Homo sapiens: one gene and its partners. The protein of the gene in region 3 purifies or fractionates together with the protein of the main gene of each other region. This does not show direct contact. Each region holds a gene or a part of one and is shown on either strand. Other genes may lie near its edges.

Region 1 (7,569 bases), on a different chromosome or scaffold from region 3:
ATTACCAATACAAACAGAATTACAAATACTTATTTATGAACTTATTAACTTTAGAAATATTATTTTACCTGTTTCTTTTCCTTAAAGTCAACGATATGATTGATAGCAACAACTGAATAGCCAACTGAAAAAGAAAAATTGAACACTTTTGTTAAATATAACAACCTCTCCTTCCTGTAACACAGGTCCATCCTGAGTCTAGATGTCAAGAGTAGGAGGACATTTGAGGAGTGGTTATGAATGTGAACTCTAGTGTCAGTCTGCCTGATTTAAAGTCTATGCACTACCACTTACAAGTTACTTAACATGAAGTTTCAGGTTCCTCATCTGTCAAATGGTGAAAATAACAACACTTTCTTCATACACTGTCATGAAATTTAAATGAAATAATACACATGAGGTGTTTGAGAACAGTGCCTGGCACACAGGTCTTTGTTTAACCATTATGAATTATTATTAAAATGATACTAAAGACTCTTAACTTTGTGCTTCTCCTTTTCAAATGTCATTCTCTTTCATGACCCTATATTCATTTTTATCCCATCAAGTTCCTACTTTATCACTGTCACTTTTATTCCCGTTCATTTCTTTTGCTTTTTATCCTTCTACTTCCTTCAGAGACTCCTTTCCTAAGGAGAAATGGAGTGATAACTCCCTCACACCACTGCCCGCTTCCCATTTTAAGCTGCACACCATCGACAGACTGGGAGCTCCTTGAGGTCAAGGGCTTGCTTTATTATCCTCATCAGTTAGCACTGTTCTGGACATTTGGGCTACCAAAAAAAAATCTAAATCATGACTCCCATCTTTAATTTTTAAAAATACCAATGGGGATGAAAGGATATTAACATTAAAATACATATCAATGCCAAACTCTCAACAGTTTGTCCAACTTCCTTCTTCCCTTCCTCCCTCAAATATTTACTGAGCATCCATTACTTGACAAGCCCTAAACTGGTGTTGAGCATACAGGATAAATAATATAATCCTTCTCCACAAGAAATTTACAGCCTAGTCTGTTGGAGAACGAAGGCAAATAAGGCAATTAAGCAAGTCATTGTATATAAATACATGTTTTTTATAAGTAAGGATTCTATGGAAGTACATAGCACAGTGAAACCTGGTGTAGGGGTCACAAAAGGCTCCCTGAAGAAAGTTACCCTTAAAAACAAAAAAAAAATCACAAGTATGCCTGTACCTTGGGCTTCACCTTGCACCCAGTTAGTCAAATCAACCAGCCACACCTCCTCCCTATTCTTCTTTACCACACTCCCAAATCTGCTCTAAACTTCCTTGTTATACCCATTTAGGATATCCTTTTGGCTACTAAACAATGTCCCTACCGTTCTACAGAAATGTCAACTAGGATCTGTTTCTCCACAAAACTTTTTCCTAGACTACTCCTCATCTGGCAGCTTAGGAGTACTTACTTCCCCAATCAGGCTTTAGGGTATTTTAATTTACACAGTATATTTCTGAAGCTTATTATTGGTTTCTTGTATCACATCAGAAACTGAGAACCAGGGCTCTGTCTTTCCTATTCTTTGCAAATGTCCACTATTTAGTTCCAGACTCATCAAATAGCAGAGCAGTCCTTTGTCTTTGACTTGTAAGTTGAGGCAACTTTATATGCCATGAATTCCATTTAATTTACAAACAAATAACCACTAACAATGTACATATATTACCACACCTCTTCCAAGTGTATTTTAAACTGGGGGAAATTCTCTAAAGAAATCATTATTAACTTTTCTTTTTTGTATTAATTTTTTTAATGTGTTCAGTTTATTCCACAAGCATTAACTGAGTAACTGCCATGTACTGGTGCCTGCAGAGTGAACGTGTTAAGCACAGTAAATAAAAGGATAAGACATGGCAATTCTCTTAGGAAGCTCATGATTTATTCAAAAATGGGATGGCGTCAGGAAAAGCCTCATTGAGGAGGTAATAATTGCGACAAACTACACCTAGGAAAACTTATTTTACAGGATCAAAGAACATTAGCGCCAAATGGCCCAGATCATCATGTCTACTTTCGTCTTCGTGCTGATGAGCAAAGTACCACAGAGATAACGTTCATTTAGTGGCAGCAGTGGAAAGGGACAGTCATTTCGCCACGGATACTTCATAAAGAGAACAATAAAAAAGTGGTGTGATTCACTTTGCCAAGAAGTGGTTGTCATTTCTAGCACCACCTCTGAACAGTATCAGTAATCAGAACTCACAATGAGCTGAAAACTGTCTCTGAGGAGCAGATGTTACTACACGAACCTCTTGATTCTTTTTAATCTCTCTATTCCAACACTTTACAGTCTACGGAATACAGAACCCATGACTAACTCCAATAGTTAAAACAGGTTCTCGTCTCTCAAGGCTTTCGCTTCCCTTCGATTTGGGCCATGCTATCCTCCTCCTCCACCTCCACTCCGCTGTGTATGTCCTCTGCCCCCACCTACCCTCTCTCTGTCTAGATAGTATTGTTCCAACACTCCCACGTCCTCCTCCTTCTCCGAGCCTCCACGGCGCTTCCTGTCCGTGCCCCAAATTCCAGTATTTGTTTAGACACTGTCGTGAGAATCAGGAAGGGCTGATAGTAACTTAGAAGCTTAGAAGATTGTACCCTTGGAGTCCAGCTCCGGCTTCTGTCACCTATCAGCTGTAGGCCCCTATGCAAATCCCTCGCCCTCGTTAGGCCTCAGTTCCCTCATTGCAGGAAAGTAGCTGAACCAGATAACAACCCCCAGAACCTTCGAGTTTCCCGCGCTAGGAATCAGACCAACACCTCGGCGGGCATCAGCCTCCAGGGACATCCCAGAGACTCTGGGAGACCTGACCGAGACCCATCAGGAAATAGTTACTCCGGAGTGTGGCCCGATGGTCTGGGTGGCATGAGGTTGGCCAGGCGCGAAGCCGGGGCAACTCACGGTGAGCGGCTGTCTCCACAAGTCCGCGCAGAGCCTTCAGGTCAGAACCCGCTCGCAGGTCCAAATCTGCAAACACCGCCATGCTGAAGTCCCATGACCGTCCGCGCGCGCCAGTCTGCGCAGCCGCTGAGCCCGCCCCTCAGGCATGCTGGGAGCTGTAGTTAACCTGCGCAGTCCGTCTCTACCTCCAGTTGACTAGGGATTCGGAGAAACTTACTTGCTTTGCTTTCATCTACCACCAGAATTTGTGTGTTGAAATCAACAGCTTCATTTCAATCTCTCTTTGTCTTCTTCTGAACGACAATGTTTGGTTCCCCCTGGAGGGGTTCCAATTCCCAACTATTCAATACTCCTATAAAATAGTGTAGAAATGAATTCATTCAAAATGCACGCACACGGTATCTACTTAGTGCTGCTCATGAATCAGAGAATTCTGCTAATGGGTGAAAACGCTATTTAAAGAGTCTTAAAGAACACGTTTTCCTTTCCTTTCCCTAAAGTCCATTCCGTTGTTTACAATGGACTTACCGGGAAGAAGGCGTTTGTGTGTGACGGACTCTAGGACTTCAAAAGAGAACTACCCCAAGACGAGGGTCTTTTTACCCAATCAGAACTGTTGATGTCAAAGCCCGCTATTCTCTGTGGCAGTCAACATCTTCAACCACAAGATGGCGGGACTCGCTCTAGGACGAGCGGTTAGAGCCAACATTGATTTAGCCAAAGACATGTTTGAAAAGGGAGGTGCAAAATTGAGATGTTTTACACTTTTCCAGCTGAGAAATGTACAAGGTGACGCATATCCCACATATCTGATGTTTCCACTTTTTTCCGACTTAGTGTAAATGATCTATTGAGGATAATAATCAATTATACTACAAAAGTGTGACTATAGTTTACATCAGTGCTCTCAAACTACCTGTGATGAAGGATCAGTTTCTCCCTCCTTTTCCTCTACCCCCAAACTCTTCGCGAACCAGGATGTGGTCCTTTATGCATTACCAGTAAGCAGCCTGGCCTCATGGGAATCACAAATTTGACAACACTCGAACTGCCCTATACCTGGCTGAATAGAATCTGCTGATCAGGAGCTTGGATTATCAGGACAATGCCAAAGTACTGTAAACTTTCTAAACATCTTCACTTTTTGTTTGTTTGTTTGTTTTATTAACGTGCGCACAGCAACAACAATCACAGAATTAGAGGCTCGGTCATTTGACCTAGGGAGTATCCTAGTTGGTGGCCTGCTGAGTTTTCGTTTCGTTTTGTTTTGTTTTTAGAGAGAGTATCTCGTTATTGACCAGGATGGACTCTAACGCAAGCAATCCTCTCTCCTAGCTGTGATTACAGGAGCCCACCCACATGCTTCACCCATCAATTTCTCTTATTTACTGATCACAAACAGTTCACAGATAGTCTCTCGTCTATGGACCACACCTTAACTAGTACTCCTTTATGCGATTTTCTTGTCGGTCTCAGAAGGGAGGAAGGATCTGTTCCATGCAGTAGCATGCAATTCTCTTCTTGGTTAACTTTTGTAAAGAAGAGATATTTTGCCTTTTCCAGTACTTGATATTTCCTAAGTGGGAGTAGAAGAGAATATTACTTCTGCAAATAGAATAAGGTCATATGAAGCAAACGCTTTGTTTTTCATGAGAATATCTAGTGTTAATTTTGCAGGGTCACACAGGCATCATCACCTATGACCATAACAATCTAGATTGGTCAGAAATATGACCAATGTGTGGTGAAGGTGAATAAGGTGATAGTTCAATTATTTTTTCATTTTTAGTTGACACATTGTAATTATACATATTTATAGGGTACAATTTCATGTTCTGATACATGTATATGTTGTATAATGAACAAATCAAGGTAATTAGCATATTCATCACCTCATGCATTTTTGGTGATAACATTAAAAAAAACTCTTCTAGCTGTTTCGTGATATATAAACAATACCTTACTGTTAACCATAGTCACCTTGTGTGCAATACAACATCAGAACTTATTCCTCCTATCTAACTTTGTACCTGTTGACCAACCTCTCCCCATCCTCCTCCCTCAATCCCTCCCTCAATACCAATCAGTTGGCTATAGGTGCATGCATTTATTTTTGGTCTCTCTATTCTGTTACATTATTGGTCTATGTGTCTGTTTTTCTGCCAGTACCATGCTGTTTTGGGTACTATAGCTTTGTAGCATATTTTTAAGTCAGGCTTTGTGATATCTCCAGCTTTGCTCTTTTTGCTCAGGACTGCTCTTGCTGTTTGAGGACTTTCGTGGTTCCACACAAACTTCAGGATTTTAAAAAATATTTCTGTGAGGAATGTCATTGGTATTTTCATAGGGATTGCATGGAATCTGTAGATCGTTCTGGATAGTATGTCTACTTCAACAATATTATTTCAGTTCATGAACATGGGATATCTTTTCACTTATTTGTGTCATCTTTATTTCCTTAATTTTTTTTATTGTACAGATCTTTCACCTTCTTGGTTAAGTTTATTCCTAGGTATCTTTTTTTGTAGCTATTGTAAATGGAATTGTTTTCTTGATCTTTTTAGATAGTTCCCTATTAGCATACAGAATGCTACTGTTTTTTTGTATGTCAATTTTGTATCCTGCAACTTCACTGAATTTACTTGCTAGTTTTAAATGGTGGAGTTTTTTTGGGGGAGCCTTTAGGGTTTTCCATGTATAAGATCATGTTGTCTGCAAACAGTAATGATTTGAGTTCCTCCTTTCCAATTTGGATGTCTTTTATTTCTTTTTCTTGCCTAATTGCTGTGGCTAGGAGACTGTTTAATTATCTGATGCTAGTATGAGACTAAAGTGGGCTTCTTTGAAAGTCACAGAACTTTTGCTGTGGACTGTACCATATAAACTTCTTTTCTTCTCTGCACCCTAAGCCTGGGTGAAGAGGAAGAGAAGAGGTAAGAAAGAATAGGAATAGATAACAATCAGTATTTAGCACTATACTGAGGGCCAGCGAATTTGCTAAGTACTTATGTATGTATCTTATTTTCAAAGCAGCTGTGTGTTAAATGCTGTTTTTTATTTTTGTTTTATTACTGTTTTCAGATCTAGACTTGCAGAAGTACTGTTTTTTACTTTTTGTTATTTTGTTTTTAAAATCAATATCCATTTTTTATATCTGAGAAAACTAAGGCATTATTAGTGGTAGAACTACATGTGGATGGAGGCAATTTGTTTCAGTTCTTGCCTAGTGTACTGCTTCCTGAGCAAAGCAAGCAGAGACTAGAGTTGTTTGGGAGGGAGGAGGAGAAGAAGAGAAAAGAAGAGAAGGGAGACCAGAGAGGAGAGAAGGAGAGTAGAGGAAAGGAGAAGTAGGAAGGGAGAAGGAAGGAAAGGAAAGAAGTGGAAGAGGGGAGAGAGAAGTGGAGAGAAGAAAAAGACAAGACAGAATAGGGGAGATGAACAGGGAAGAGGGGTCAGAAGTTGGCCTGAAGGGATGGCTGTGGCAACAAGTATCTGCACCTTGAAGAAGACCATAGAAATTTCTGACTGGAAGATAATAGTACTGTTTAAGACTGGTAGCAGTGGCTCACACCTGTAATCCCAGCACTTTGGGAGGCTGAGGCAGGAGAATCACTTGAAGCCAATTCACGACTAGCGTGGGCAACAAAGTGAGACCCTGTCTCTACAAAAAATAAATTAGCCAGAAGTGGTGGCACACACCTGTAGTCTGAATTACTGGGGAGGCTGAGGTGGGAGGATCCCTTGAGCCCAGGAGTTCCATGTTATTATACAATGAGCTATGGATTGCACCACTGCACCCTGGTGTGGGTGACAGAATGAGACCTGTCTCTTAAAAATCCTAGCTACTTGGGAGGCTGAGGCAGTAGAATTTCTTGAACCTGGGAGGCAGAGGTTACAGTGAGCAGAGATTGCACCATTACACTCCAGCCTGGGCAACAAGAGTGAAACTCCGTCTCAAAAAAAAAAAAAAAGTACTGTATAATTATGATAAGCATTTTACATCAGTTATCTGATTTGATCCTTACAATAGCCAATGAGAGAGATATTGTTATTCCCATTATATCAAGGAGAAGTCCTGGGCTCAGATAGGATGGCTCTTGAGTCATTTCTTCTTCTGCGGGAAGCCTAGAAAAAGAGGATGGTTTTTCACATCCAACGCAATCATTGAGCCCTTCTCATCCTCCCAGAAGAGCTCTCTTTTCTGGGCTGTGTGTGGGCTTGGGTGTGTGCTTGATTAGTCTTTGGCCTTATCCTAAGTTTATTCCATTCACCCCTCCTGAGTGAACTGAAAAATGCTCCACCCAACCCCTGTCCTCTTGCAGCTTAAGGCCGAGGGGGAGCCAGGCAAGAAAACCATATTATAAAATGATTTAGCCAGATGTATTGGGAGCACAAAGCAGAGATTTATCTCCCAGATTGAGAGGGAAGTTTGGGAGATCTGAAGGGAAAAAATGGCAGTTTCCTTGAGGGAGTAATGCTTGAATTAAATTTTGACACATGGAAGTGGAAGAGGAACATACATGAGACAGAGATCTAGGGTGTTGAGGGTATATCCAGAGCTGGCACAAAGTAGGTGGTACTCAGCCAAAAGTAACTGATTGAATAAATGAACTCATGGCCTCTTGTTTGACTTTGTTCCCATATC
Region 2 (7,758 bases), on a different chromosome or scaffold from region 3:
TCCCTGACCAACAGCCTATTTGTGCAAGTTTACTATCATCAAGCAAAAAACTGACTCAGAACGGAACGTGACCTTTGGGGATGCGCGGAGAGGGGTCCAAAGTAGAATTCTAGATAAACATACACCTCTCAGAGACAGAGTTCCAGGTTAAGATTCAAAAGCTACCCAACCTCTCCAAGCCTCAGTTTCCTCACTGTTAAATGAGGATCATAGGCTTGCTTCATAAAGTTGTTGCAAGGGTTAAATTTGGTAAGACATTTAACAGTGCCTGCTACAGCCATTGTCCACGTAATTCACAGAGTGGTGTCAGGCCTTGAAATAGATGAAAGGAATAACGGTGATGAGACCAGACAAGATGCCCAGCTCATAAGTCGCCCCAGCAGTGTCAGAATGAGAGGAGCTACTGGTAACTAGAGTTCTTCATATCTTCACTGGAGAGGACACACATGGGGGCTACCACAAGATAAGCATGTGGCCACTGTACAGGTGAGTTATGTAGTGTGGGTGGAATCCCTAAAGGCCCTCTGAAATAGTTTCAAACAAATGGCTCCCAGGAATCAACTGAAACAAACCAGTCCAACCCAGCAGATATGGGTGGAAATGGGGTGAGTAGAGGAGGGGTTATGGCTACAAAATCTAAGCAGAAGACACTGGACCCCAACAAGCACTTTGCTCTGTGAACAGTAGCTGTGGCTGTATCGGGAGACCAACCCTCTGAGACAGCTGCTGTGGGACTGCTGACAGCATAGTGTCTTTGCAGCCACATCTTCAACAGCAGTGCATCTGAACACAGACTGCAAGTCTCTCCTCTCCATTAATCCTCATTTTAAGGGGACGGATACTGTCATGTTACAACATCCCCATCCAACACTTGTGGCCAATTGCAATCAGAAACCACCACCTAAAGAGGGTACAAGAAAGAACAGGATGAGAATGCGGGGGAGAACGCGTGTGCACCTGACCACACAGACTATACCACAGGCCCTGTTTGAAACAAAACAACAGCCCTAGCATCGTGATGTGGTCTCCCTACCCTTCCTCATCCAGCCTTGTTCACAGCCATTTCAGGTTTTTCTTACCTTTCTTTATAAAGGTACTGATGAATTCAGGTGTAATTAATTCATGAAGAGGTAAATTCTTCACAAAGTAATAGGGTCCAGTGTTCATGACCAGGTTTTTCAGTTCTTCCGATAGTATCCCACATTCAGGAATGAGAAATGAAACCTATTGGAATGTGTAATACAAACAAGGTCTTACTTCCATGAAGATGAACACCCAGGTTTTTAGGAATGAAACAAAATCATGAAAGTTGTTATTTCTCCACGAGTTTCACTGGAACATAAAAACACGGGCAACAAAACTCTTATGTTAACTTACCTATCTCAGGCAAAGAGAAATCTGACTACTTAAGTTTTTCATTTCTGCATTCAAACGTACAGTACAGGAAGGGGATTGAACAGAATACTTTTAATGGAAAACTCGTGCTTGCATTTAATCTTTTGCAAATTAGCAATGCTGTATATTTTATGTCCTGTTCCTTTCACTATTTTATTTTCAAGGAAATATAGTATAATTGAATATCCCTTGATTTGTTTACCCTGGTGTTATCCTGGAATGAAACAAACTATCTGTCGGGGCATAAGGAATTAATTTATGGACATCCAATTACTAAGAATCTATGTGCAAGCAATGGTGCTCCTGTATGTTTTCATTTTCGAGACAGAAAAATGCAACAGGCGAGTTAAAGTATACATCCCTGACTGCTGTGATGAGCTTGACATCCAAAATAGGTGTTAAAAACAGGGCAGGCTTCAAATGTTGCCACATTGTAAAAGTCATCACTGTCCCAAGGCTCAAACACCAGCCTGTTCTGACTGATCAGGTCACCACTTAACATCTCTGAAACACTGCTCAGTCAAACCTGAGTTATTAAGCTGATCCATTTAAAGTGTAAAATGTTTAATCCCCCATGATAAGGTTAGTTTCTTGAAGTCTCTCAGATATCAAATTAGTTCCAACAACCAATTTAGAAAATCAGTCGCTTCGGCCGGGCGCGGTGGCTCACGCCTGTAATCCCAGCACTTTGGGAGGCCGAGACGGGCGGATCACGAGGTCAGGAGATCGAGACCATCCTGGCTAACACGGTGAAACCTCGTCTCTACTAAAAATACAAAAATTAGCCGGGCGTGGTGGCGCGCGCCTGTAGACCCAGCTACACGGGAGGCTGAGGCAGGAGAATGGCGTGAACCCGGGAGGCGGAGCCTGCAGTGAGCCGAGATCGCGCCACTGCACTCCAGCCTGGGCGACAGAGCGAAACTCCGTCTAAAAAAAAAAAAAAAAAAAAAAGGAAAATCAGTCGCTTCCTGGGCCGAGCCTAGGCAGGATGCTCTGGTGAGATCCACAGGTACGCAGGTGGGAGAGGGATTCAAGCTGGGGAGGAGGCAGTGGTGGGGAGGAGGCGCGAGACCCGCCCTGATTTGGGGAAAAAGCGAGGTGCACGTGGCTGCCCCACAGCCTAACTCCCTGGTCCCGGCCCTGAACCTCGAATCCCTCCCTGGACTCACTCCCAGTTCGGCGGGTTGACACGAGTGAGCAGCCAGAACGCCCCTGACAACAGCTCCCTCCAGACTGGGTACCGCCCCCACGCCCGGCGCATCCTGGGAGTTGTAGTCCTGTAGCCCTGCAAGCCACTGGCTTAGAGCAGTTAAGAGACTACAACTCCCAGCAAGCCGGGCGAGGGCCCCGCCCCTCCGCGTACCGCCGGCGGCCCCGCCCCGCGAAGCCTAGCACTCTCCCCAAACCTCTCTCGCACGCGGGGACTGAGCACGGCCCGAAAAGCCGAGGACAGCCGGACTCACCCTGTAGTTATAGTAGTGCGTCTGCACAAGATGCCGGTGGCGCGACTTGTGGTTGCCGAAGTTGGATTTCTCGCAAACCAGTAAGTGCCGCGGCGCCTCCCGAAGCCGGCGCAGCGTGGCCATGCTCTCCTGGGTTCCTGGTCCTCCCGGCCTCCGCTGGCGGGGCACGCCCCGCCCCTTCCTCCCGCCCCGCCCCTTCCCTCCGGCCGCATACCCGCTGCTGTGCGCCCCTGGCGGCGGTGGAGTGGGGATGGCGGCGCTGGATTTCTGAGCAGTTCTTAGACTTCTTAGGAGCCCACGCAGCCGCTCTTTGGTGGATGTCTGAAGCTGTAAATTCACTGTCCCAGTGGCTGGGAACCTGGCTCTTGCCTTTTCAACGCCACTTTTCCTCCGTCCCCGCCATCCCTTGGAATTGCCCTAAACCCTCTCTGTGGGCCCCGCCTCGGAGCGCCCCTTGGACCCCAGCCTGGCGCCGGCGCATACCTCGGTCAGGCCCCTCAGAGGGACCGCTTCCTGCCACCGTTATAAAAGGAAAACATCGCATGGAAAGGCCCAGTTCCTTTAGTATATGGTCAAGAAATGTAGCCGCACAGTTAAGTAACCCCCTAAGCTGCTTTGGGGGCCACACCCAGCTGCTTTCTGACTTCTCACACTGTTTGGTTCACAGGACTCTGTTACCCATTGGGGACCTCTTGGCCATTATTAACACAGGCCAACAGGACTAAAAGTTTGTATCAGTCCTTCCCAAAACATTAGGGAAGGTTGTGCGGGAAGGTAAAGCACAATTTTTGCCTTACAATAGGACTCCTTTGAAACTACTATTGAGTTCCCTTTTAAATAGCCCTTCAGAACCGCTTTTAATAATGTGTTGTTTCTGGGGGTTAATAGTGATAATTCTCCTAAGTCATTTTTCCATTTCGTTTTTCTGTCACGGGCTTGGAGCGGTTAAGAGACTGCGGCTCCCAGCATGCGGTACGTTACTGATCAGGGCAAAATCAAGTATGTTACTACATGCTTCTCAAACTAGAGAGGCACAGCCCCAATTCTGCACTGGCAGGATACAAAACAGCAGAATATTGGTGATACATCTTCCTGGAACATCAGTTTTTCTATGAGATGTGGAAGAAATGGAATTAAGTAGTTTACAAGGTAAATAATTAAGAATTTAAAACTAAGCCAGTCACAGTGGGTCATGCCTGTAATCCCAGCACTTTGGGAGGCTGAGGTGGGAGGATCACTTGAGCTTAGGAGTTCAAGACCAGCCTGGGCAATATAGTGAGACCCCATCTCCAAAAATAAAAATAAAACTAAGACAAGGCTGGAAAGTCATCTGCCATTATAAACATCAGTAATCTGGCCGAGCACAGTGGCTCACGCCTGTAGTCCCAGCACTTTGGGAGGCTGAGGTGGGAGGATCACTTGAACTCAGAAGTTCACGACCACCCTGGACAATATAGTAAGACCCCATCTCAAAAAAAAAAATTAAAACTAAGACAAGGCCGGAAAGTCATCTGCCACTAAAAACATCGGTAATCTGGCTGAGTGCTGTGGCTCACGCCTGTAGTCCCAGCAATTTGGGAGGCCGAGGCGAGCAGATCGCCTGAGGTCAGGAGTTCAAGACCACCCTGGCCAACATGGTGAAACGCTTTCTACTAAAAATACAAAAATTAACAGGGTGTGGTGGCGCATGCCTGTAATCCCAGCTACTCAAGAGGCTGAGGCAGAAGAATCACTCGAACCTGGGAGGCAGAGGTTGCAGTGAGTCAAGATCTCGCCACTGCACTTCTAGGCTGGGCGACAGAGTGAGACTCTGTCTCAAAAAAAAAAAAAAAGTCAAAATGTAATCTATGACTGAAATGTCACATTTTCTTTCCAAGGAAAAACCTAATGAGAACCTGTTTCCCATTATTTTAAACAGCAGAATTATAAGGCGTGGCAAGTTAATTAAAAAAAACCCTACTAATTTCCTAGATCACAATATGGCAGCTAGATGTTTTATAAATAACAGCTACTAATAACATGTTAAGATGTAAAAGGCTTAAAGCATTGCTTCTTGGTCACCTCATATTTAATGTAATTGTCACCAGACAGTTGCTTTGTGTGTGGTAGCAGTGGCCCAAGACTGAAACATCACGGATGTACCTCTCCTTTGTCGACATTCCAAAACTCCACAAAGTGACTGGTGTGATCCTGATGGTCTACCAATTGTATTTGGAAGCACCGTGAAGCTTTTCCAGCAAACCATTTAGTTTAAAATGTTGCATATTTTGAAGATGCAAAATAAATTCTATCTATGTAAATATCAGCTGAAAAATGTATTGAGAGATATAAACTGCCCTCTTCTCAAGAGAGACCCCACAGAGTCTTGCAGCTTTAAGTCCTCCTCTCTGGCTGCTGATAACCCCTAGATGTGGCGCCTCTTCCCTGAGCGGAGTATCCAGATGACTCTAGTACAAGGACTCACCCCTGACTTCTTCCCTTCTCACCCGCCATGCAATCCCACAGTAAGTCTTGTGGCCCTGCCTGCAGCACGCATCCTGATTGCAGCCTCTTCTTGCTCTCTGCGTTTCTACAGCCAGTTTCAGCCACCTTCGTCACTTACTGGCCTGCTGCCCAAGACTGCCTCCAAACCTTCTCCTTGCTGCCTCTCTTGCCCTCCCACAGTCCATTCTCCACTCAGCATCCAGAGTGATCTCTTAAAAACATGAAAAACATAATATACCCCCACAGCCCCATTTAGACCCTACCACTGGCTTCTCACTGTGATGGAATAAAAGCTTACACATTGGCCTGAGCCTGCCTCTTCAGCCTCATCTCCTTCCCTTGCTTATTCACACTCTGTCTGTCAGATTTTCTGGTCTCTAGAGCTGAAAGCAGTCTTAACTGACAAACAGATATTAGATCATAGAATCTAGAGCACAGGGTATGGAAGGAAAAGTGCAAGATGGAAAAGCCAGAAATGGTTAAAAAAAAAAAAAAGCACATGAAACAAAACATATCTATATGTATACCCAAAATAGTAACATAATTTTGAAAAATCTGAGCTAATAGACTTGCAAAGAAATAGAAATATCTTTGATCATATTCTGAAAACAAAAAAATATAGACTTAGTAAATATAAAAGGACAAAAATTTTACACATCCCATTTCCGGGCCATAATGCAATAAAGTTAGAAAGAACAGAAACAGAATTGGCCGGGTGCTGTGGCTCATGCCTGTAATCCCAGCACTTTGGGAAGCCAAAGCGGGTGGATCACGAGGTCAAGAGATCGAGACCATCCTGGCCAACATGGTGAAACCCTGTCTCTACTAAAAATACAAAAACTAGCTGGGTGTGGTGGCATGCGCCTGTAGTCCCAGCTACTTGGGAGGCTGAGGCAGGAGAATCACTTGAACCCGGGAGGTGGAGGTTACAGTGAGCCAAGATCTTGCCACTGCACTCCAGCCTGGCAACAGAGTGAGACTCTGTCTCAAAAAAACAAACAAAAACAACAACAAAAAAAAAAAACAGAGAAAGAAACAATTTAAAGATGCTCAACTCTTTGACAATGTTAAAATATTCTTTTAAATAAATTAATGCCTGGGTCAGGGTGCAAATCCAAAACACAATGACAGTGTCCATAAACTTCTGTGCTTGTAAATGTATCATAACCATATACAGGCCGTATTGGTGAAAGGAGACAGCTGTCTGACTCAGAAACACAGGGAGTGATCAGGTTATGTTCATTAGGATCCTAGCACTGCCCTGGAGTTGTTTAACATCATCTCTTTACAGTTAGGAGCAGACTGCAGGGAAATGTATCTATTGCAGACAACTGTGCTAAATCAGAGGCCGCCCTCCTGCTGAACCTGAACTTGACCTCACAGTTCCTGTCAGCACAGGGTTCTAGGCAGCTGCTACAAATCAACTGGTGTTGGCTTACAGATTGAAACTGCCCTCAGACAGCAGAGTGGAAACTGGCACCAATGGCTGCAATGGAGAAAATTAATGGCCTGTGGGCCACACACGGTGGCTCATGCCTGTAGTCCCAGCACTTTGGGAGGCCAAAGCGGGTGGATCACTTGAGGTCAGGAGTTCGAGACCAGTCTGGCCAACATGGTGAAACTCTGTCTCTACGAAAAATACAAAAGTTAACCGGGTGTGGTGGCGCATGCCTGTAATCCCAGCTACTCAGGAGGCTGAGGCAGGAGAATTGCTTGAACCCGGGAGGCGGCAGTTGCACTGAGCCGAGATGGTGCCACTGCATTCCAGCCTGGGCAACAGAGTGAGGCTCCATCTCAAAAATAATAATAAAATAATAATAATAATAATAATGGCCCCTGCTATGGTCTGAATGTTTGTGTTCCCCCAAAGCTCATGTATTGAAATGCAATCACCAATGTGATGGTATGAGGAGGTAGGGCATTTGGGAGGTTAGAAATGGGATTCATGCACTTATAAAGGAAGCCTCAGAGAGCTGCCTTTCCCCTCCTTCTATATGAGGACAGAGGGAGAAGATGCCATCTAATGAACAAGAAAGCGGCCCCTCCCCAGACACTGAATCTGCCAGTGCCTTGATCTTGGACTTCCCAGCCTCCACAACTGTGAGAAAGAAAAGTCTGTTGTTTATAAGTTACCCATTTTATGATGTTCCCTTATAGCAGCACAAATGGACTAAGACAGCCCCCAAGAAGAATGTATGACCCACCTAAGAACTAGACAGTGTCATTTTCTCCTGGGCTGCTCTCTCCGTGACTGGAGTGGAGATCAGTGAAGGACACAAACATTAACCATGGCAGCTCCATAGGCCATATCGCTGTACGGAGGTGCACAAATGAAGTCATGCCTTAAAAGCAGAACATGGCCAGGCATGGTGGCTCATGCCTGTAATCCTAACACTTTGGGAGGCTGAGGTGGGAG
Region 3 (7,210 bases):
AGGCTGGTCTCAAGCTCCTGACCTCGTGATTTGCCCGCCTTGGCCCCCCAAAGTGCTGGGATTACAGGATTACAGGCATGAACCACCATGCCCGGCCTCAGGCCCTGCTTTCATAGTCCTGGTAACCCGGCTATCAGTCACTTGTTGTCTTGGAAAGTTGGACCCTTTTCAGAACCAAGACCAGTCTCCCTTAAGCTTCTACCATGCAGGACCTTGTCCAAGTTTTATCACTGCCTTTAGATGCTGAAGTCCAGGAGAAGCTAGGCCATCTTGTCAGGACAGTTTACATTCTTTCCATGCTTCTTGGGCCACCCCTGAGAGGGTCAGACAAGCAAACCCAAACCCCTTGGCCCTCTCCAGGGACTCATCAAGAGCAGGAATTTGGGGAGAGCAACGAGGGACAAAGTCTGGATGACAAAGCTCACTCCAAAGCTCAAGCAGAGATACTGCAGGGGAGGGAAACCTCCCTAAGAGCCCCTCCAGTCAGCCACAGAACGTATCTCTTGTCACCAGCAGGATTTATTTCAGGGTTCTGCCAGCAAAATGACTTATAAATACATTCTTCCGCATCTCCCCCTTTCCAGGGGTGCTGCTGAGTTGCATGGGATGAGATCTGCTTCTGAGATCCTGGGGCTGTATGCCACCCCCAACTCACCAGAGCTCTTCCAGCACACAGCAGCACCCCCACCCCCCAGCTGGCTTGGAGTTGGGCAGAGAAGCTTATGAGGCTGTTATCTCTCAACAGACAGCTGTGCAGGGCTGGAGGCAGCAGCTTATCAGGAGGCCTGCAGTGATTCACAGCCCAAGACCCAGCTTCTCTGCTGAATAGTAATTTCCAGCAGTGGATTTGTGCTCAGTCTCTCTCCTCCCCCTTTCCCAAGGGTGTGCTGTCCTTTCTCAGAGAGAGGGCAGTGAAGGGGAGATCCTACCCACAGAGCTGGGGGCTTTGTGCCAGCCTTCTGGGTAAGGTTCAGTTTATTGTCTGGAGGCTGCAGATTCAGGGACCTCAGCAGGGTCTGCCACCCTTTGCAGTGACCTCCAGGAGAGTTCATCGATGCTGTCCTTCCACTCCTTCCTTCCCCTCCCAGAAAAACAATGTGCCGCTCCCTTTCCCTTAGTGGCGATGTACAGGGGTACACGGGCCCCCATTTGCAACAGCCTCTGAGGCCAGGGCCAGCCCGGGAGGGCGGAGTGGGGGAGGAGAGAGGAAGAAGCCAGGGACTGGGCAGTGCCTTGCACCATTTTGAAGCTGTTCAGTCTCTGTGCCTGACCCTGAAGACTCCAAAGACTCAGGACGCAAGGCTGGAGGGGAGGGGAGACACAAGGGGCCAGGCGAGAGCTGTCTCTGCACAGGCGGGTGGTTAGAAAAAAAATGGGGGACACAGCCATTTTTGTGCTTGTTTTATTGGAAGCAAGACTCCAGCCAGCTGCAGGGCTCAGGGGAGGAGGCCTGGAGAGTTCAGTCCTGGGTCTCCCTCTGGGCCAGCAGGGGGAAAAGGGGTGTTAAAAGAGCTAGAACCCTCAGAGATGCTCCTCTGAAGCAGGGGAAAGAAAACTAGAAAGGAAAACTGTCCCAGGGCGGGGAGCGGAATAGGGCCCCCACATCTCAGACTCTCCTACCCTCAAGCAGTTAATTCTCACCCCCTGCCTTCCTCTGTCAACGGTGGGGGTGATTCCAATAACTCTTCTCAGCTTCCATACTTCAGGTGCTCTTCGTGAATGCTGGGTGGCTTTAACCCTTGGGGGTCCCAAACAAGTTTCCAGAATCCCACTGTCCACCATTCTCCCCCAAAGAAGGTCCCAGAAAAGGTGAAGTTCCGTGTCTTCACGCAACACGGGCATAAGCAGCAATTATCGCACGAAGTTTCCCTAGGGTGGTCGGGGATCCTCTCCTGCCACTCCTGGGGCCCCTCTCTTGTCGCCTTAAGGTCCATGCTACCTGTCTTGAGGAGCTGTGTCCAGGTTGTGGGCTCCGGAGGACCGAGGAGTGAAAGGCTGGAGGTACATCTGAAGGTGGAGGCGCTGGCGGAAGATCCTGCCGGACTAGGTGGCCCACAGTCCGGAGTTTCAGGCCGTCTGATCCTCGTCCGCAACCCCTGGCTCGGGTTGCGATCGCTTCGCGGAGCCTTCTCCAGCTGCGGGTTCCCCTAGGCTCCTCTTGGACGCTGGCGCGGCTGGCGGGGACGAGGGACCAGGATGGGGATTCGGGGGCTGGTAGCCGGGCTGTCGCGGATCCAGCGCGTCCTTGGAAAGTAGGATGGCGAGGCCGGGCACGTTCTTAAGTACGCTGAGACTAGCGGCCGGCTCGCCAGGCGTCTGACCCTGCGTGGGCCCAGGCGGGAGGCTCTGCCACACCTCGCGTACGCTCCGGTAGCGCAGCCGCGTGACCTGGTGCAGGCCCGCCAGGCGGCGCTTGAGGATCTCGGCGCACGTGACGGTTTTGGTGGTGGCCCGGCCGCAGCCGCTGAAGACGATGGCGCGCGTGGCTGGCTGCGCCATGCTGGCGGTGGCGAAGGCCATCAGGTTCCGGATCTTGCTGCCTTCCTTGACCCGCATGTGCACCGCGCCCGGCGCCAGGTCTGCGAAGGGGCCGGAGCCCGGGCCGCCTCCCTCGGCCCCGCACCCCGCTGGCGCCTCTTCGGAGCGCACCTTACGGAAGTTCTCCATGCGCCGTCGTCGCCGGGACCGCCGGCTTTGCCATGGGGCGGCCTCAGCCCCGGGGCTGCATGGCCGCCGGTCGCGCCTTGCAAGGGCCAGCAGGGGTAAGGGCGCCGGAGCAGCGCAGACGCCGGCGGGCGGGCTGGGACGGCGCGATCTCGGCCCCACTTCTCTCGAGCGGGCGCCGCTCTACTCAGCGCTCTCGGCGCCGGGTGCTCCGCGCCTTTAGCTGAGGCCCCGCCCCTGCCGCCAGGCCCCTCCCCTGACCCGGCCCGGCCGGGCCCGCCCGGGCCCCAGCCTCACTAGCCTTTCCTGGCGAGTCTGGGTCCTCAGCTACGCGGGCGTGGGAGCGGGCGCGCTGCGGGGCGCATGAGCAGGTGAAGGTGAAGTTCCACTATAATCGCCATCAGCGCTCTGAGAGCCAACCCTCACAAACCGGCAGTCTAAATAAAAGCTGCGCTTGCCGTGCAAACACTGCTTCAAATCCGGTATCCGAGCCCTTCCCATTTGCAACTGAAGGCCGCCCCTCGTCCCCTCCCAGGGAGAGATTTCCAAGAGGCTTGCTGGGGCCTTGCCCCTCCTCCCCCGCCCCGGGGAACACCCCCACCTTTTTTCCGCTCCCAAGTATTCTTGCCTCAAGGACAGCTAGTGCGCGGTCAGCAGAGTGCGGGAGGAGCTGGCTGCGGCTCCACTCCGCGCCTCCCCGCGGGCGATTACGTCGCGGCGTGGTCCTCGCGGGGCGCGGAAGACCCAGACTTCAGCCTCGCCACGCCTGCCCGGAGCTCGAGGCTCCCGGACCCCCGTCCACCCCTGGGACGTGAGGAGTGAGGCTTTGGGCCAGGCTGTTCCCCGAGGCGCGTGGGGAAGCGGGCGTGACCTCTTCTGAAAAGGCGGTAGGCTCGCTCCACCCAGGCCCTAGAGCCCACCCTTAGAGCTGCGCGCTTTAGGGTGAGCCAGGCACGATGCCTTGCCAACGTGGCCGCCCCCTTCCTCCCAGGCGGAATTCGCTCAGGCAACATTGGCCCCTTGAGATCCAGTGGGGTCCTTTTCGAAAGGAGGCTAGGTGAACGCAGGTTTTAAAAAAGAGAAGGGAGGGGCCGGGCGCGGTGTCTCACGCTTTTAATCCCAGCACTTTGGGAGGCAGAGGTGGGCGGATTACTTGACGTCAGGAGTTCGAGACCAGCCTGGTCAACATGGTGAAACCCCGTCTCCATTAAACGTACAAAAATCAGCTCGGCGTTGTGGCACGCTCCTGTAATCCTAGCTGCTCGGGAGGCTGAGGCAGGACAAGCGCTTGAACCCGGGAGCTGAAGGCTGCAGTGAGCCGAGATCATGCCACTGCACTCCAGCCGGGGCGACAGAGCAAAGCTCTGTCTCGAAAAATGAATAAATTAATTAATTAAATAAAATACAAAAGAGAAGGGAGGGATACCCCATTCTCCAGGATGTGATTATTATGCATTGCATGCCTGTATCAAAACGTCTCATGTACCCTCTAAATATAGACACCTATTGTATACCCACAAAAATTAAAAAGACTTAAAAAAAAATAAAAGAGAGAAAGAAGGGAGGAAGATGGGGAGTTGAAGCCCTGGGGGCATTATGGAACTACTGGATGCCTCTCCGGCGGAAACTCCACGGGACCGAAAGAGAGGCCCGGGGTCTCCTGCCGGGTGAGAGAAGCATTAGAGAAAGATGAGATTGGGGGCTGTCAGGACTACTGATGGAAGGGAGGGGGTCTGAGAAGGGGCCCGACCCTCCCTAAAACTGCTCTCGGGATTCCCCCGTCCTCCTTCCACCCGCCCTACGCAGTCAGGACTGAGAGAGGGCGGCAGATCTGGTCCTAGCCAGGGGACTGTGACGGGGCGTGGCGGGGAGGGACACAGAGAGCTGGGGCGGGCGGGCCACCGGGAAAGTGCTGGGGGCATGACAGTGCCTTGGATTGCTGGGCCTCAGTTGGAGATGGGGCTGCCAGATGCTGTTCTCCCTCCTCCCGCTGTTCTCGCCCTCTGGGCATCTGCAGCAGCTCTCAGTCCCTGCTGTTCAAAACCAGGGTTTACTTCCTTGTCACTTCTTGGGAGCGGCCCTCGGTCCCTGCTGTTCAGAACCGGGATTTACCCTCTTACCACTTCCTGGGAGTGGCTGCGGCGACTGGACCTTGGCACCGCAATGTGTGAATGGCTGACCCCCTCCCCGTCTCCTGGTGGGATCAGGAACCCTCGGGGTATGCTCCGAACCGGGACTTCGGTCTCGGTCCAGTCTCCATGGGCCCCACACAGCGGTGGGGGCTGGAGGCACAGCAGCCTTGGGAAGAAACAAAGACTGTCCGCAGCGCGTAGCGGGGCGTGGAGAACCGAGGGCTGTGTAAGGTCAGGCCCTGAGAAAAAGCCCCCGAAAGGCTGGAAGTTACGTTGGAACGGGCTGGTTGTGGAAGGAGCGAGCTCTCCGTCCCCGGGAGTATGCAAGTTTGGGCTGCACGATCACTTGGAAGGGATTGGGCGGAGTTCTGTCATTTGGAGAAAGGGTCCTGGGAGCTTCAGGTTTGTGTAGGGCGAGGACGGGGCGGTTCTGCGTCCGGCCAGGTTGGCCCTCGAGGACCCAGCCGTCCCCAACCTCCTAAACTGCTGTCGGATGTAGAAGACTCGCATTCACTGCTCTCCACAGTCGGTGAAGGGAGAACGCCGAAAAGGGCCGCATTCCCTCCTGCCGGTCCCCTCCCCTTCCCGCGCTCCCTCTGCAGCACTTAAAATGTAAATGTACATCGTGATTAGCCGCGGGGTCGCTAATTACAGCTGAAGCCATTCATTACACTGTCAGCGCGCGTCGCAGCCCGCCGGCTGTGCGCTCCCTCCTAGCCGTGAAGGGGTGTAGGGGGTGGGGGCGGGAGATGCGGGGAGTGAGGGAGGAAGGATGGGGTGCTGTGAATTAGGGTAATGTGGCAGGCCTGGAGGAAGCTGGAGTGGGAGAGAGCGGGCAGCGAGCGGGGAAAACAGGGTGGGCGGTGAAGGACGGGGCGGGGTGGCGAGGAGAGAGGAGAAACGCGAGAGGCAGGAAGGAATTGGGGCATGAAGTAGTGAGGACACAGGGAAAGGGGCTGTATGAGGGGGGAAACAGCGTAGGGGACAGGGCGAAGGGAGAAAAAGCTGAGAAGAGGGTGGGAACCCCAGGGTGGGGCCAGAGTCAGAGGAGGGGAGCACAGGGCTCAACTTCAGAAAGGCTGGTAAATTTTAAAGTAGAGCATCAGTGGTGCACACCACACAATGGTTAGAAAAGTGGAGTCAGTGAAGACGTTGTGTTAAAGGAGCTGGGTGCCAGCCATACACAGAGTAGGGGGGCATTTATTTCCGTGTGTGTTTATAGATGTAAATGTATTTTTAAAATATCTGCAAGAAAACAGCACACTGACCTCTTGTTACCGCATGAAGTTTTCATTACCTTCTTTAAGAAAAGGACAATTAAATATGAATACAGAGTCTTGGAGCAGCTTGCATAAATGAGCTACTGACCCTGAAGCTTCAGCTTCTATTAGCTTCTTTCTGCCTCTGTGTGACCTTGGACAATTTACTTAACCCATTTGCTTTGGCTTTGTCATCTGTAAAATGGGGCTAATTATAGTAATCTACCTCACAGAGTGATTATGAGACACAGCCGTCTTGGAACCTTGGCTGCTAAGTTCTCAGGAAATGTTGGCTGTTATTATTTTTCATATATTATTTGTGAATTTAAAAAAATTGTAAAGGGATTGGGGGAAAGAAAACTGGTGAAAAGGAAAAGAAATTGGGAAAGACTCAGAAATAATAGCAGTTTTCACTCACAGTGAACTGGTGAGTGGCAAGCTAGACTCCTTTCACCCTGGGAGGAGGTGTTGGGGTAGCTGGGCTAGAGGCCAAGCCTAGCCAATACATATCTGTTAAGGTTCCCTGGGACCTTTCCAGCAGCACACCCTACTTCCTGTGGACAAATCTCTCATGTTCACACTGGAGGGGGATCGCTGGTACAGCCCCTCTCCTCTGTCTCTTGTTGCAGGAGGAGGATGAGGAGCTCTTAAAACCCCTGATCCTAGTCCCAGCCTCTTTGGGCAGGGTCTTGGGAGCATGCAAGTAGAGTCAGGAATTAGAAAGTTAGCAGGGCCAGGCCGGGCGCAGTCGCTCACTCCTGTAATCCCAGCACTTTGGGAGGCAGAGGCGGGCGGATCACGAGGTCAGGAGATCGAGACCATCCTGGCTAACACAGTGAAACCCTGTCTCTACTAAAAATACAAAAAATTAGCTGGGCGTGGTGGTGGGCGCCTGTAGTCCCTGCTACTCGGGAGGCTGAGGCAGGAGAATGGCCTGAACCCGGGAGGCGGAGCTTACAGTGAGCCGAGATTGTGCCACTGCACCCCAGCCTGGGCGACAGAGCGAGACTCCGTCTCAAAAACAAAACAAAACAAAAACAACAACAACAAAAAAGAAAATTAGCAGGGCCAGAGGGAACTCAGATTTAGCAGGCACCCACCGAGTGCCCAGCATTGGGTCAGATGTGTTTAATCTCCACACTCTTCTTTCCAGGA
Region 4 (7,915 bases), on a different chromosome or scaffold from region 3:
ATTTGCTACTGGCCTCCATATAGTAAACCGTACGTAATCTGATTTTGGTTGTTTTATTCCATCTTATATCCCCAATATTAAATGTTGCTTGGCATATGATAGACCCTCAATAAAATGTTGAAAGAACAAAAGATGCATTCACCTTTGTTGGGCATACCTGTAAATCCACTCTGACATGGAGTGGGAGGACAGCTGAAGAAGTGACATGATACCTACATACATAACATAGTACTATCTGAAGCAAAGGAGCATTAACTGAAAAAATAATGTAGTGGTAACTGCAATTTAGGTGGAGCCATAACGGTCAGTTCAAGAAATCCGCACATTTGTGAAAAATAATGCTCAACAATGGGATCTCAAAACAATTGAGAGCTCACCATGTTTGGTTTAGGTAATCATGAAAAATAAAAGTAAGCTGTCCTTATAATGAAACACTAATCATTAGAGAAGTGTTTATGTATATATTTTGATAATCCAAATATACTACTATAAATCTCTGAGTTATACTGAGGCTGATTCTTAAACTGATTTTAAGTGAAAGAAAAGAAAATTCTAGTTTACTCATACATACTGGAACTGAAATCTTACCAATACACTTTTGGAGTCTTTGAACTTTTTCACCATTTTTGCTTCTTTAAAACTGAGTGTATAGTTTCTCGCTTCTCGATTAAGAAGTTTCTGTATTTTGGGTGTCAACCTGGCTTTGGGTTTGAGACGCACTCGAGAGTTATCCAGAACCAACAGCTGGAAACAGTATGGACACGTTTCTTCAAAAGTGCTCTTATCATCTAAAATTATACAAATGAAACTCACAATTCAGCAAATCAGAATATTTTGTTACCTCAAACTGTCAACATTTATAAAAAGTATATTGAAATTTAATATAAGCAGATACACATTAAGTAAACTCAAAATATGAAAATTTACAAAAAGATAAATTGGCAGTAATTTACCTTGCAAAATACTACAATTCCATCCATTCACTCCTTTCAGCAACAGATAGGCAAATCTCCAACCTATGCTAGCAAATCCTGTAGGCTTTAAAATATATCCTAAATCTAGCCACTTCTCATTACTTGCTACTAAGTTTTAAAAGGCTGTTATGTTTCACCAATTTTACCAATGCATTTACCACAAAATAACAAATTGCACTGCGATTTTGTTTCTTTTTTTAAATAATTAGCACAATGAATAGTATCTACTGTTGAGCACTGTGCTAAGTGCCAGGGATGCAACAGCACTTATAAAGCTAAAGACCACACTTAAACTTAGCTCTGCCAAATGTGAAACTCATTCATATTCACTAAGTGACAATTAAGAATGCCAGGCACTGTTCTAAGTGCTGGAGACACAGCAGTGAACAAAGGACAATTCACCGAGGCATACAATAAATATAACAACGTCAAATGTTAAGTGCTGGGAATAAAAAAGTAAGATAGGAGGGGGGAATAGAAGTATTGATGGAGTTACTGTAATTTTAAATAGGTGGCTAGGGAAAGCTTCATTGAGTGATATTATAGAGACCAGAGGGAAATGGAGGATTCACATGAAAGCAGATATGTGAGGCAAGAATCCCAGGCAGAGTGAAGAGTACCTGCAAAGGCCCTGAAACAGAAAAGCAAGGAGACCTAGTGTGACTGGAGTTGCGTGAAGGAAAGAGTACGTCAGAGAGGTATGCAGGTCTATGACACAGGGCCTTACAATCCTTTTAAAGGACTTTCACTTTTATTAATCCAGGAGAGAGCTGGTGATGGCCTGGAGCAGGGTAGTAGCAATGGATGTGGTGAGGAGTGGAGTGCAATGGCGCCATCTCCGCTCACTGCAACCTCCACCTCCCGGGTTCAAGAGATTCTCATGCCTCACCCTCTCGAGTAGCTGGGATTACAGGCGTGCACCACCATGCCAGGTAATTTTTTTGTATTTTTAGTAGAGACAGCGTTTCGCCATGTTGGCCAGGTTGGTCTCGAACTCCTGGCCTCAAATGATCCGCCCGCCTCTGCATCTCAAAGTGCTGGGATTACAGGGGTGAGCCACCGCTCCTGGCTGATTTTGGCTACATTTTAAAGCCAACAGGATTTGCTCGCATACTGGCCTGGGGGAGGAGAGAGAGTTAGGGAGTCAAGAATAGCTCCAAGGTTTTTGGGCTCAATAACTGTAAGGGAAGAATGGAATTATTTACTGAAATGAGAAAAACTGGAGGATCTTGTTGGGGGTTAAAGCTCAGGTTTTGGACATATTAGCTAAGTTTGAATTACTAGACATTGAAAAGAATTTGTCAAGAAGACATTCGGATATATGAGTCTAGAATTCAGAGGAGAGGTCTGCGCTGAGTATATACATTTGTAAGTCCTCAGTATATGGTATTTAAAAGCCATGAGATTGGATGAAAAACTGTCACCAAGGAAGCGAGTGTGCCTAGAAAAGAGGTCCAAGGGCTGAGTACTGGGCCACGACAATACTTAAAGCTTGGGGAGATTAGGAGGAACCAGCAAAGCAAATCGAGAAGTAATAAATGAAGAGGTGAACTACGTAATGACCTAGAAGCCAAGGGAGGAAACTATTTCAAGACTGATCAATGTGTCAAATGCCGCTAACAAAGCAAGACAAGGCACATTAAAGAATTTGGATTTTTCACGAAACCGAGACACATGCGGGCTTTGTTGTTGTTGTTTTTATGGAGGGAAGTGAGTCCATCGGCCTTATTTGAGCGTTGTGCGGAACAGAGGAAAGCGGGGCGACAAGAGCCCAAAGCACAAGAGACAGGCGTTCTTCTTACCGTGCGACGAAGTGTAGGCCCAGCTGTAAAAGAGAAAGAGACTTGTGAGGAGCAAAGGAACACCTACCCGCTCGCCTCCCGCTTCCCCTCCAGTCCTCTTACAGGAGGTAGCGGGCTTGGCCCGGGCAGCTGTCGTGCAGTCCCCGCGCTGCAGCCTCAAGGTAGTGCTTCTGTCTCATCGCCGCCGCCGCTGCCGCTGGCTCGCCGCGGGAACCAGGTGAGAAAATAGGGCGCCGGAAGTCGGCTTCCCAGCGTCCCCGTCGTTGGTGTCCGGACTCAAGCTGCTTCCGGAAACAGGCACCGTAGGCAGACAGGTTCCGGTTTCCTTCGCGTCCAGTCTGGCTTGGAGGCGTGCCCAGCCGGGAGGCGGCCCCACCCGCCCGCCGCGTCCCCGCCCCCTCAGTTCCACCCCTTGGCCTGCCGGGTCCTCTCAGGCACCCAGCGGAGTTTCGAGTCAGACTTGAGCTCGGGCGTAGCGGCTAGACCGGGCTGTGGCGATAGAGTCCAAAGGTGAGGCTCCCACCCGCCTCTCCATCTTCCTCCCGCCTCGCCTCCTCTCTGACAGCCCTTTTGTGATTGCCCTGCCGCAGCTTCGCCCTCCACATTCGCCGGGCGCGGTACTGACTGGTGCGCCGGCGGGCGGAAGCGCTGCCAGCAACGAGGCGGCCGGGAGGAGCGTCCCCAGTCCAGCCTGCCCTCCGCCTGCGTAAACGCTAGCGTTTCTCTTTTTGTAATTAAAGTGAAATTCACATAACGTAATATTGACCATTTTAAGGTGAACAATTCAGTGGCGTTTAGTAAATTTACAATGTTGTGCAAGCACCATTCTGCTATTTCCAAAATATTTCGCCGAAGGACAGCCAACTCCATGAAGCACTTACGGCCAATCCTCCTCTCCCTCCCAGGCCTTGGCAACCACCAGTCCGCTTTCTGTCTCTATGGATTTACCTATTCTGGGCATTTCATGTAAATGGAATCATACACACGACCTTTTGTGTCTGGCTTCCTTCACCTAGCATAATGTATCAGGTTCATCCACCTTGCAGCACGTATCAGTACTTCATTCGTTGTTATGGCTGAATAATATTCCATTGTATGGCGGTATCACAATGGTTTATCCATTCATCAGTTGAACGTTTGAATTGTTTCTACTTTTTGGCTGTTATGAATGAATGCCGCTGTGAACATGTGTGTACATGCATTTGTTTGAGTGCCTTTTTTCTGTTCTTCGGGGTATAATACCTAAGAGTAGATCTGCTGGGTTATGTAGTAATTCTGTGCTTAATGAGGGTTCCAGTTTCTCCGTATCCTCACCAACATTTGCTTTTCTTTTTCTTTTTTTTTTAAATCTAGCCTTCCTAGTGAGTATGATGTAGCATCTCATTGTGGTTTTGATTAACATTTCCCTGACTACTGATGCTTTTGAGCAGCTTTTCATGTGCTTGTTGGCAATTTATGTATCTTTGGCTGTTTAAGTTCTTTGCTCATTTTTTATTGGAGTTGTCTTTTTGTTGATAAGTTGTAAGGTTCTTTTAATGTGTATGTTCTGGATAGTGGACCCTTATTTAGCCTGCTTTATTTATTTATCTGAGATGGGATCTCACTCTGTTGCTCAGGCTGGAGTGCAGTCGTGTGATCACAGTTCACTGCATTCTTGAATTCCTGGGCTGGGTTAAAGGGTTCTCTTGCCTCAGCCTCCCTAGTAGCTGGGAACCAGGCACACTACCATGCGTAGGTATTGTTGTTGTTGTTGTTGTTGTTGTTATTATTATTATTATTTTGGTAGAGATGGGCGTCTCACTATATTGCCCAGGCTGGTCTTGAACTCCTGGGCTCAAGTGATCCTCCCACCTCAGCCTCCCATAGTGTTAGGATCACAGGTATGAGACACTATGCCCAGCCCATTTTTAATTTTAAAAGGGAGCTAAATTGGCTAGGCGCAGTGGCTCACGCCTGTAATTCCAGCACTTGGGGAGGGCAAAGCGGGTGGATTGCCTGATCTCAGGAGTCGGCGACCAGCCTGGGCAACACGGTGAAACCCTGTCTCTACTAAAATACAAAAATTTAGCCAGGTGTGGCGGCATGCGCCTGTAGTTCCAGCTACTTGGGAGGCTGAGGCACAGGAATCGCTTGAACCCAGGAGGCGGAGGTTGCAGTGAACCGAGATCACAGCCACTGCACTCCAGCCTGGGCGACAGAGCGAGACTCCGTCTAAAAAAAAAAAAAAAAAAAAAAAAGGCGGGAGGCGGGGGGCTAAATTATATAAAGATTTGTAAAGAGAAAGTATATATTTACATCTCTATAGGCATTTTAACTTTTTCCGAAGAAAAGTTATTTTCCCTGCTCTTCCCACCTTTCCATCCCACTTCTCTGAGGCGATCAACATGAATAATTGGGTGTCTCCTCTACCTATGTCCTTATACACTTAAGTACGTGTATAAATATGCTACCCCCCACCACTTACCACGACCACAACAAAAAGAAACAAACCAAACACACACACAAAACCAAAACCAAAAGTAAAATGTTAGTTCCTTACTGTATAACTTGTCTTTTTTCCTTAACAGCAGGCCACAGACATCTTTTCAAGTTAGTACATGCTTTTAAATAGCTGAACATATTACAAAATGTAATGAAACATAATTTAATTTATTTAATAAATAACCATATTTTATTTTCCTATTGATGTTCATTTGGAAAAAAATTCGTGCTTTGCTAGTTAATACAGTACTGGTGGTTTTATTTCTTTTGTCTGAATTCCTAAAAGATAAATTACTGGGTAGAATAATATGCACATTTTTTATATGCCAGATCATCCAGAAAAGGTTGTAGCAATTCATATTCCCAGCATCAATGACTAAGAAGGCTGGGTCAAATTAGATAGGTGAAAGGCAAATCCTCTTTTCATTTATCCCTTGATGGTTTGCATTTTCTCTTATGAAGAGAAATCTCTTGTTGGATTATCAGTTTTTAGAAGATCTTTTATTTTGGTGAAATTCACTTTCTGCTTGTCATATGTGATGCAATATTTTCTTCTTCCTTATCTTTGGCATAATTTATAACTTTTTAACATTACAAAATTTTGTATGTGATCAAACAAGTCACTCTTTTCATTATTGGATCTGGGTTTTCTGTGTGGTCTAAAAAGTCCTGCTTTGTCAAAGTTAGGCAACTAACTATTCAATTAGATTTTTTTGTTTGTTTGTTTGAGACAGAGTCTCACTCTGTTGCCAGGCTGGAGTGCAGTGGTGCGATCTTGGTTCCCTGCAACCTCCGACTCCCTGGTTCAAGCGATTCTCCTGCCTCAGCCTCCCGAGTAGCTGGGATAACAGGCATGCACCACCATGCCTAGCTAATTTTTGTATTTTTAGTAGAGACAGGGTTTCATCATGTTGGCTGGGATGGTCTCTATCTCCTGACCACATGATCCACCTGCCTTGGCCTCCCAAAGTGCTGGGATTATAGGTGTGAGCCACTGCACCTGGCTAATCAGATGTTTTTCTCATACTTTTCTAGTATGATTTCTTCCATGCACATATTTAATTGATATGAAATGTATTTTCACTTAAATGTAAGAGCATCTGACATTTTTTCAAAATGGATAGTAAGTTATACAAAAGCCCCATGCTAGGTAAACTAGTCTTTTTCCATTTGAATTGAAATAAAAATAATATGCAATGAGCACTGTATATGTGCCAGGCACTTTTCTAAGCATCTTAACGTGTATTAATTTATTTAATCCTCACAACACCACCATGGCATAGGAGAAATGCCACTACACCATATAGAAGTTCTGTTTTGTTTTGTTTTTTACATAGTTGTATCTGTTTCTAGGTCACTAATAAAGCAGAAAGAGGGAAAATGTGAAAATGAAATCCAATATGTGTGCATGTGCTGAGACCCCAGTGGCGCTAGAGGAATTAAAGACACACGCACAGAAATATAGAGGTGTGAAGTGGGAAATCAGGGGTCTCACAGCCTTCAGAGCTGAGAGCCCTGAACAGAGATTTACCCACATATTTATTAACAGCAAACCAGTCATTAGCATTGTTTCTATAGATATTAAATTAACTAAAAGTCCCCTATGGGAAAGGAAGGGATGGGCTGAATTAATTGCAGCAGGAACATGCCCTTAAGACACAGATCGCTCATGCTTTTGTTTGTGTCTTAAGAATTCCTTTAAGCGGTTTTCCGCCCTGGGCGGGCCAGGTGTTGCTTGCCCTCATTCCTGTAAACCCACAACCTTCCAGCTTGGGCGTTGGGGCCATTATGGACATGTTACAGTGCTGCTTCTTCCTTCCCACGGCTTGCAGCTGGTCTGTCCTCAGGTCCTGCTGGCTCTTCATCAGAAGTAAATCATGACTGCCCGCTTCTCTGCACCACCACAGCCACCCTCTTCTCTTGCCTGCACCCCTGCTATGGCCCTCTGCATTCGTTTCCTGCTTCCTCTTTTATCTCTCCCAGTCCAATTGAAACTGCCTTTGCAAAAATTAACAGTGAAATGATTAGCGTGAAAGAGATCTGACCTAACCAACTCCATCTTGCTTCTAACCTCTAAGCTGTCCTTGTTCATTCCCAGGAATTGGCTGAACTAATTTTGGGAGGAACTTAGTTTATAGTTTAACTTTGTAACAGCCCTTTATAGTTTGACTTTGAAATAAAGATGATATCAGCTCTTTCCCAAAACAAAACCCGTTCTTGCCTGGGGACCAGGCTGCCTTTGTAGGACTAACAAATTAGCTACAAGATTAGAAATTATGGTTTAGGAGCCATGCAGCTGGAGGCTGCAAGATTCTGATCCTCCTCAAATTGCTCCTGGGGATAATAACATCACTGTTGTAAAATCTAAGATCAGTGCTTCGTAATCTGGCTCAACCAGTTCTGTGATCCTCCACTGGAACAGAAGACAGCAAGAAAAACCCACTTTAACCCCCTATGATTTTTTTTTTTTTAAGCTCTGTTGTCCAGGCTAGAGTGCAGTGGCGTGATCTCTGCTCACTGCAACCTCCGCCTCCCAGGTTCAAGTGATTCTCCTGCCTCAGCCTCCCGAGTAGTTGGGACTACAGGCATGCACCACCATGCCCGGCTAATTTTTTAAAATTTTTGGTAGAGACGGGGTTTTGCTATGTTGGTCAGGCT

What was found.
Region 1: the proteins of RPP25 (region 3) and RPP30 purify together in Homo sapiens (affinity purification with mass spectrometry; 4 studies listed by BioGRID and IntAct, with this or other methods). This does not show direct contact.
Region 2: the proteins of RPP25 (region 3) and RPP40 purify together in Homo sapiens (affinity purification with mass spectrometry; 5 studies listed by BioGRID and IntAct, with this or other methods). This does not show direct contact.
Region 4: the proteins of RPP25 (region 3) and RMP24 purify together in Homo sapiens (affinity purification with mass spectrometry; 3 studies listed by BioGRID and IntAct, with this or other methods). This does not show direct contact.

The regions. Positions count from the first base shown.
Region 1 is NC_000010.11:90,867,424-90,874,992, reverse strand, and holds the start of RPP30 (ribonuclease P protein subunit p30), read right to left. Parts: upstream 3,020-7,569; 5' UTR 3,007-3,019; coding exon 2,925-3,006; intron 125-2,924; coding exon 69-124; intron 1-68. UniProt on the Homo sapiens protein: Component of ribonuclease P, a ribonucleoprotein complex that generates mature tRNA molecules by cleaving their 5'-ends. Also a component of the MRP ribonuclease complex, which cleaves pre-rRNA sequences.
Region 2 is NC_000006.12:5,001,022-5,008,779, forward strand, and holds the start of RPP40 (ribonuclease P protein subunit p40), read right to left. Parts: upstream 3,017-7,758; 5' UTR 2,982-3,016; coding exon 2,859-2,981; exon of another isoform or gene 2,795-2,858; intron 1,225-2,794; coding exon 1,080-1,224; intron 1-1,079. UniProt on the Homo sapiens protein: Component of ribonuclease P, a ribonucleoprotein complex that generates mature tRNA molecules by cleaving their 5'-ends. Also a component of the MRP ribonuclease complex, which cleaves pre-rRNA sequences.
Region 3 is NC_000015.10:74,953,917-74,961,126, forward strand, and holds RPP25 (ribonuclease P protein subunit p25), read right to left. Parts: upstream 2,857-7,210; 5' UTR 2,668-2,856; coding exon 2,068-2,667; 3' UTR 502-2,067; downstream 1-501. UniProt on the Homo sapiens protein: Component of ribonuclease P, a ribonucleoprotein complex that generates mature tRNA molecules by cleaving their 5'-ends. Also a component of the MRP ribonuclease complex, which cleaves pre-rRNA sequences.
Region 4 is NC_000018.10:35,967,769-35,975,683, reverse strand, and holds the start of RMP24 (UPF0711 protein C18orf21), read right to left. Parts: upstream 3,006-7,915; 5' UTR 2,956-3,005; coding exon 2,879-2,955; exon of another isoform or gene 2,818-2,878; coding exon of another isoform or gene 2,800-2,817; coding exon 2,777-2,799; intron 789-2,776; coding exon 589-788; intron 1-588.